Homo sapiens: one gene and its partner. The protein of the gene in region 1 interacts with the protein of each later gene in a pairwise test. Each region holds a gene or a part of one and is shown on either strand. Other genes may lie near its edges.

Region 1 (4,651 bases):
TCCTCCCTGGGGATGGCCAGACAGGCTGGGTCCTGTCGGTGCCTCGGACGAGGGCAGGTGGGGACAATGACAAACATGGAGGAGGTCAGAGAGCCAGCCCCGGCCCCTCCACCTGGCTCTCTGTTCTGACCTTGTAGCCATCAGTGGGCATAGTGAGGTGGGTGGGGCTCAGACACGCATGTGTGGGGAGCCCCTCCCCAGGATGGTCCTGGAGCCCTAGGATGAAGGCTCGGCCCCTGCCAGCTACCCGGAGAACCAGGGCAGGAAGAAAACATCTCTGCCCCTGGAGGCTCTCATTTGTCCCTTCATGGGGACGTGGCTTTGCTTCCAAGGAGGTGGACAAGGCTGTGTCAGTTTGGCCTCCGGCCCTGGGGACGGCTGCTGCTGGCTGTCCTGGGTCTGCCTGGAGGGGAGTGAGCGAGGCGGCTGTGCTGACCACAGGGAGCTCCATGGGGTGGGACTCCGGGAGGTCCTCCTGCTGGTGCTGGTCGCCTCTGGCGTTGACATGCAAGGGTCATTTGCTGGGGCAGGAGGCAGACCTGGGCTCTCAAATGCACACAGCGACCTGGCAGAAAGAGTGCAGCGGCTCGTACCACTCGCCCAACGCGGTATCGTGGACCACGTCTGAGTGCCAGAGCGGAGGGTGGCAGACAGAGCTGAGGGCTATTTGGAGAGACCTAGGAGGCTGGGGGTGTGGGGACAGGGTCCTCGGGGTCAGAGTCCAGGACCACAGGACCAGGAGGGAGCCAGGACCCTGAAAGTCTAGGCGAGGCCGCATGGGGCAGGGGGGCCCGCAGGCTTGGTTAGTGGGTGCCATGGTCCCTGCCCATCTGTGTTCTCGCCAGCGATGCCTGAGCAATGGGTATTCCAGAACCCCACGAATACTGGGCTGCTGGGCTCGAGTCCTGGGGGAGGGCGTGGTCCCCATGTCTTACTGTGGAGGAGATGAGGGCTGCAGGGATGGGCACTGTGGTCCATAGCTGGTCTCCCCAGGGGTAACAGGAGGGGTGAGGCTGCTGGCTGGAGCTAGGCCCCGGGTGGGCTACCCCAGTCCTGGGGGGCAGCCATGAGCTGGGGAGGGTGAATGTGGCTCAGGGGCCCAGAGTGCTGCCAGGGTCCACTTTGTCCCGAAACTCCTGGCCTTGGTTCCAGAGGCAGCTTTCCTAAGATGGGCCGGGGGGCCATGTGCTGGGGTTGGGGGCCCACGGGGCTAAGAGGGAGACTGGCCTTCAGGGTTCACAGAGGCCAGCACCAGAAGGCATTGCTTCCTGCCTCATCCCATGCCCCTCGGGGGTCCACAGACAGGATGAAAAGTCGACAGAGACAGAGGGGTGGAGCCAGGCCTGCTGGGGGTCAGGACTCTCCCTGCAGTCAGGGGTGGCATCACTTCCCACCTCACCCTGTGCCCCCCGGGGGTCCACAGACAGGACAGAGGTTGGTGTGAGACAGAGGCGGCTTTATTAGAACTAGAGGGGGTGCTGCCCAGGGTGGAACCAGGCCTGCTGGGGGTTAGTTCTGCAGAACTTGGGTCTGGGGGAGTAGCTGGGGTCTCTCATGCAGCCAGCATCTGGGAAGGACAGGGGGAGCATCCTGGTCCCTAAGACAAAGAGCCTGCCCCATCTTCTGAGGGTGTCAAAGCCAGAGAGGGCAGAGCTTGCTGGGGCAGCTGGGAGGTCAGCCCCTGGTGGGAAGGGACTCCGGATCACATCCAGGGCTGTCAGCAGCTGGACTTCTGGCCAGAGCAGAGGCTGTAGCAGGCAGGGCGGGAGCACATGGGGCGGCAGAGGAGGGAAACACAGGAGGCCGTGCGGCAGCAGCTGGGCTGGCAGGAGGAGGCAGAGGCACCACAGGAGGGGACGGGCACGCAGCAGGTGGACTTGCACACAGGGTGGCAGAGGAGGGACACGGAGGAGGAGGATCTGCAGCAGGAGGCGGTGCAGCAAGCCGGCTGGCAGCTAGACTGCTGGCAGCATGATGTGGAAGCCCCAGAGCAGACGGGCACACAGCAGGCGTGCTGGCAGGGGGAGGAGGTGCAGCAAGCTGGCTGGCAGCTAGACTGCTGGCAGCATGAAGAGGAATCCTCAGAGCAGGTGGGCACACAGCACACAGGCACGCAGCAGACGGGCACGCAGCAGGCCTGCTGGCAGGGGGAGGAGGTGCAGCAAGTTGGCTGGCAGCTAGACTGCTGGCAGCATGAGGGTGTGCAGGAGCTGGTGCAGCCTGATTGGCAGGGGCTGGGCTCACAGACCGCCTGGCAGCAGGGGCTGGACACACAGCTCACACAGCTAGACTGCTGGCAGCACGAAGAGGAAATCCCAGAGCAGACAGGCTTGCAGCAGACGGGCACACAGCAGGCCTGCTGGCAGGGGGAGGAGGTGCAGCAAGCTGACTGGCAGCTAGACTGCTGGCAGCATGAAGAATCCCCACAGCAGACGGACACACAGCACACAGGCTTGCAGCAGACAGTCTTGCAGCAGACGGGCACGCAGCAGGCCTGCTGGCAGGGGGAGGAGGCACAGCAAGCCAGCTGGCAGCTAGACTGCTGGCAGCACGAGGGCGTGCAGGAGCTGGTGCAGCCTGATTGGCAGGGGCTGGGCTCACAGGTCACTGGGCAGCAGGGGCTGGACACACGGCTCACTGGGGTGCAGACCAGGCTCAGGCAGGGGGCCGGGGCGCAGCAGGGGGGCTCACAGCAGCTCTCTGGGCAGTCGTCCACCTGCCAGGAGTCGGAGCAAGAGTCACAGGAACCAGGAAGGCAGACGCGGCTGCCGTAGCTCAGGTCGCTGGAGCAGACGGACATGGTGGACGCGGCCATGCTGGGGTTGAACTGGTGGAGGGTGAGGGAGTGAGCCTGTGAGGTGCTGAGGCTCTCGGGCTTTTATTCCACCTGGCCTTGTTGTCCCCGGGCCCACAGCTTCCCCTTCCGTGTTGCCGAGAGCTGGAGTCTGCCGGGATTAGGGGTGTTTGTTCGCCCGTGATGTGGGCCAGCTCATAAATCTCCCATCACATCTGGGCTGTGTCCCATCCCATGTGGATCCCTGGCGGCAGGAATTGGGCGGGGCCTGGTCCCAGCTGGGTTCGGGGAGCTGGGAGAGCCACAGGTCGCGGCATCGTCCACCCCTGGCCCCAGCAGCCCCGGGACACAGAGTCCCTCTGCAGGAAGCCGGCCTCAGGAAGTGTCCTTGTGGTGAAAACCCCTCATCCAGCGTGGTCCTTCCCCCATCACCGGACACAGGACTGTGGCCATCTTCTGAGGGACAACCTGGGGCCCATGAGCCTTCATTGACCTGCCCTGGGCCATGGCATGGTGGGGGTGGGGGGCAGCTGTAACTGTGCCCAGACCTCTTGGCTTTGAGCTCTGGACGACTTCTCATCCCCACAGCCTCTTCACCTCCGGCCCTGTTTCGTGTCCACCTCGTCTTTGTGTTTTGGAGGCAGCAGGACCTGTGTGTTCCAGGGCAAGGACGGTGGGCTTGGCCCCTCCCTGCTTGGACAGCATGACAGCCTTCTGGGCTGTGGTTTTGGGTTCTGAACCTGCAGAGTAACCGTGCTGAGCAGCGGGCGGTCAGCAGCCCTCGTCCCCGCCTGGGGTGGCTCCTCTGTGTGCTCTGCTTCTCCGAGGCTGCCCGTCAGCCCCCACCCAGCCTCCTGCTGGGCCCATTTCCCAGCCCTGTCTTCCAAGCCCTGTGCCAGGCCTCTTAGTGTCACCACCTTAAAATTAAGGGACATCTGTCCAAAGAACCCGCACAGAAGACACAAAATGGGTCCATGAGAAGTTGATCTCACTGCAAACCCATTGCCAGTGTAAACGAAACATAAAATCCTAAGCCCCTCAACTGACTAAATGGATCCCATCTTGCCCACGGGGACCCCCGAAAAACTGCGTTCCTGGCCATGACAGGAAGGGAGGTCAGACACGCCTCGTTACACCCCCTCCCTTTAGGGTTTCGACACAACCACTACCCAGCACTAAAGTTAAAATAGAGACCGTAAGACCCACAGAGCAGACTCTGGCAATAAGATATCAAATTACAAACAGGACCTCAGGCCGCGCCAGGCAAGGGACAAGCCGCGTGCCCTACACTGAGAGGACGGACTCTGCTCTCACGCCACAGCTGCTGTTTTTCTACAGTGGCTAAACACGCACTGGCCCCGCGATGAGGATGAGCAAGGTTCAAACGACTGCAGCTCATCCACCAGCAGATGCCAACTGACCACGTTCCACAGCCATGACCACAGCTCTGACTGGGCAGGAGACTGACTTCAGGAACCTCCTCCTGATAAGGGACCCCCAACCATGGACTGGCTCCAGCCGGTTTACAGAGGCTGTGCACTGGAGTGCCTTTGTGTCCTGAGAAGACTTCTGAGGTTTAGGGCCTCATTGCGACCCATTGACATGATAAGACTCCACCCTGTAAGAAGTACATTTCAAGTGGTCCGTATTCAGAAAACAGGCCCTGGCAAGTCCAGGCAGCTCCCTTGCAGATGTGACAAGCCACACAGTACAGACATCTGGGAAGAGTGATAAGACTCACAGAAGTCAGAGGGGAGGAAGAAAAAGTGACGGATGGCTAACACATAAAAGGAAAGAAACTTTTGCCATTGAGAAATCAAATGTAAAGTGGGGAAGGGGACAAGATGTAACCTTATA
Region 2 (2,853 bases), on another chromosome or scaffold:
TCCCAAGTAGCTGGGATTACAGGCATACGCCACCACCCGGCTAATTTTGTATTTTTAGTAGAGACGGGGTTTCTCCATGTTGGTCAGCCTGGTCTTGAACTCCCGACCTCAGGTGATCTGCCCGCCTTGGCCTCCCAAAGTGCTGGGATTACAGGCATGAGCCACCGCGCCAGGCTAATTTTTGTATTTTTATTAGAGACGGAGTTTCACCATTTGGACAGGCTGATCTCAAACTCCTGACCTTGTGATCCGCCCACCTCGGCCTCCCAAAGTGCTGGGATTACAGGCGTGAGCCACTGAGCCTGGCCCACTTTTTTTTTTTTTTTTTTTTGAGATGGAGTTTTGCTCTTGTTGCCCAGGCTGGAGTGCAATGGCGCGATCTCGGCTCACCACAACCTCTGCCTCCTGGGTTCAAGCAATTCTCCTGCCTCAGCCTCCCGAGTAGCTGGGATTACAGGCATGTGCCACCATGCCTGGCTAATTTTGTATTTTTAGTAGAGATGGGGTTTCTCCATGTTGGTCAAGCTGGTCTCGAACTTCCACCTCAGGTGATCCGCCCACCTCAGTCTCCCAAAGTGCTGGAATTACAAGCGTGAGCCACCCGGCCCAGCCTATCTACCACCCTTTTTTTTTTTTTTTTTTTTGAGACAACAAGGTCTGCAGTGGAGTGATCGGTGATCAGTAAATTTTCTTTTCCTTTTTTTTTCTTTTTTTTGAAACGGAGTTTCGCTCTTGTTGCCCAGGCTAGAGTGCAATGGCGCAATCTTGGCTCACCGCAACCTCCACCTCCCAGGTTCAAGCGATTCTCCTGCCTTAGCCTCCCAAGTAGCTGGAATTATAGGCATGCACCACCATCCCAGCTAATTTTGTACTTTTAGTACTAAGAGACGGGGTTTCTCCACATTGGTCAGGCTGGTCTCGAACCCCTGACCTCAGGTGATCTGCCCATCTCGGCCTCCCAAAGTGCTGGGATTACAGGCGTGAGCCACCGGGCCCGGCCCTCTCTACCACTTTTAATTCCCCATTTTCCTGCTTCTCCTCGTGGAATAAATCATAAAAATTGACCAAACTTTAATATGGAGAACACTATATAAAAGCCATACTTCCAGACTGAATCTTTTCTTTTTTGGGGAGCAGGGGGGACAGAGTCTCGCTATGTCACCCAGGCTGGAGTGCAATGGCGCGATCTCAGCTCACTGCAACCTCCACCTCCTGGGTTCAAGCCATTCTCCTGCCTCAGCCTCTGAGTAGCTGGGATTACAGGCGCATGCCACCACAACTCGCTAATTTTTGTATTTCTAGTAGAGACAGGATTTCACCATGTTGGCCAGCCTGGTCTTGAACTCCTGATCTCATGATCCGCCCGCCTTGGCCTCCCAAAGTGCTGGGATTACAGGCGTGAGCCACTGCGCCTGGCCCGAATCTTTTCTTTAGATGAGATGTGATAGAGGCACTTTTTTACAATGGACCTCATTTAGTCTATTACAAAATGAAAATGTATTTAGGGTTTTTGCTCCTAATGGAGTTAAAATTAGTACCAGAAATCTAAATAATGGTAATCATAACTTGGGTATTTCCCTCCAATAACCTATCCTGCCTGTTCCTCCAAGCACTGCTTATATTGTAGCTTTCATTTTAGGTGGCTGAACTGGTAAAGGAGCTTCGTTGCGAACTTGATCAGCTTCTCCAGGATAAAATTAAAAACCCAAGCATTGATCTGTGTACGTGTCCTCGAGGATCCCGGATCATCAGCACAATTGTGAAACTTGTCACCACACAATAAAAAGCAGTCTTAGAGAGTGCTTGCTACTCACCTGCTTCTAGCTCACCTGGGAAATAACAGCAGAACCTCTACCTCGAACTAAAGACCTATTGGGGCTGGCCCTGGTGGAGGAGCCCAGGGCATGAAGCCCAAGGCAGCTGAGGCAGTGTATATACCCTTAGGGCCATTTCTAACAAAGCCTTGGCCACTCCCAGCACAATTTGGAGTGTCAAGGGTGAGAGCCTAAAACCCAGCTTGCCTGTCTTTGTCTCTGTGATTGTTCTGGAGTGAATTAAGTTCACCTGATAACTCAAAAGTGAATGTATAATACAATTCTGTTTTAATCTGTGTATTCTTTTTCTCCTACTTTTTACTGGGGTGAGAGGGGCATGAAGAGAAATACGCCTTTTTTTTTTTTCTTTTCCTGTCGCCAAGGCTCGACTGAGAGAAGTCAGAACAGAGAAGGGGAAAAAAAACCCAAAATTATGTGAACAAGCAAAATTAAAATTTCATTTTAGGCTATTGGCTACTGAGTAAACTTGACTTGTGAGGGGTTTTTATTTTTACTCATTAAAAGTCAACTTAAAAAAATTGAATGAGTTCTCTTTTGGTATTAAAGTGCAAGCTGGTCTTATCGATAACACTCCTATTCTTAAAAGCAGAACAATCTAGATGTCGTCATAGTTCTACATTTAGGAATCTTTACTCTGTCTTATCAACTCACCCAGACACGAATCACCGAAGGAGAATTTTAATAGCATTCCTGGGGCAGAGTTGGCATGGATGAGGTCAAAAAGGTTACCATCGGATTTACAGCCACCACAATGCTTTCCATGAAATTGCTTATTTTCAACCACCTGTTAGGTTAATGGGGCGCTAGCATTTTGGAAAAACATCAGGGGATTTACATTTTCCCTGGACATCTATCAGTATGGCGAGGAAGGATCCCAAATTGCTGAGTAGAAAAAATATTTGTATGTTTGTTTAGACCTCAGGGCCGGACGCGGTGGCTCATGCCTGTAATCCTAGCACTTTAGGAGGCCGAGGCAGGCCAATCACATGAGGTCAGAAGTTCAAGACCAGCTTGGGCA

Evidence for each region. The genes of interacting proteins can lie anywhere in the genome.
Region 2: the proteins of KRTAP10-6 (region 1) and DHX57 interact in binary tests that used the Homo sapiens proteins (3 or more experiments, as listed by UniProt).

The regions. Positions count from the first base shown.
Region 1 is NC_000021.9:44,589,670-44,594,320, forward strand, and holds KRTAP10-6 (keratin-associated protein 10-6), read right to left. Parts: upstream 2,837-4,651; 5' UTR 2,816-2,836; coding exon 1,718-2,815; 3' UTR 1,599-1,717; downstream 1-1,598. UniProt on the Homo sapiens protein: In the hair cortex, hair keratin intermediate filaments are embedded in an interfilamentous matrix, consisting of hair keratin-associated proteins (KRTAP), which are essential for the formation of a rigid and resistant hair shaft through their extensive disulfide bond cross-linking with abundant cysteine residues of hair keratins.
Region 2 is NC_000002.12:38,797,229-38,800,081, reverse strand, and holds the end of DHX57 (putative ATP-dependent RNA helicase DHX57), read left to right. Parts: intron 1-1,627; coding exon of another isoform or gene 1,628-1,639; coding exon 1,640-1,783; 3' UTR 1,784-2,353; downstream 2,354-2,853. UniProt on the Homo sapiens protein: Probable ATP-binding RNA helicase.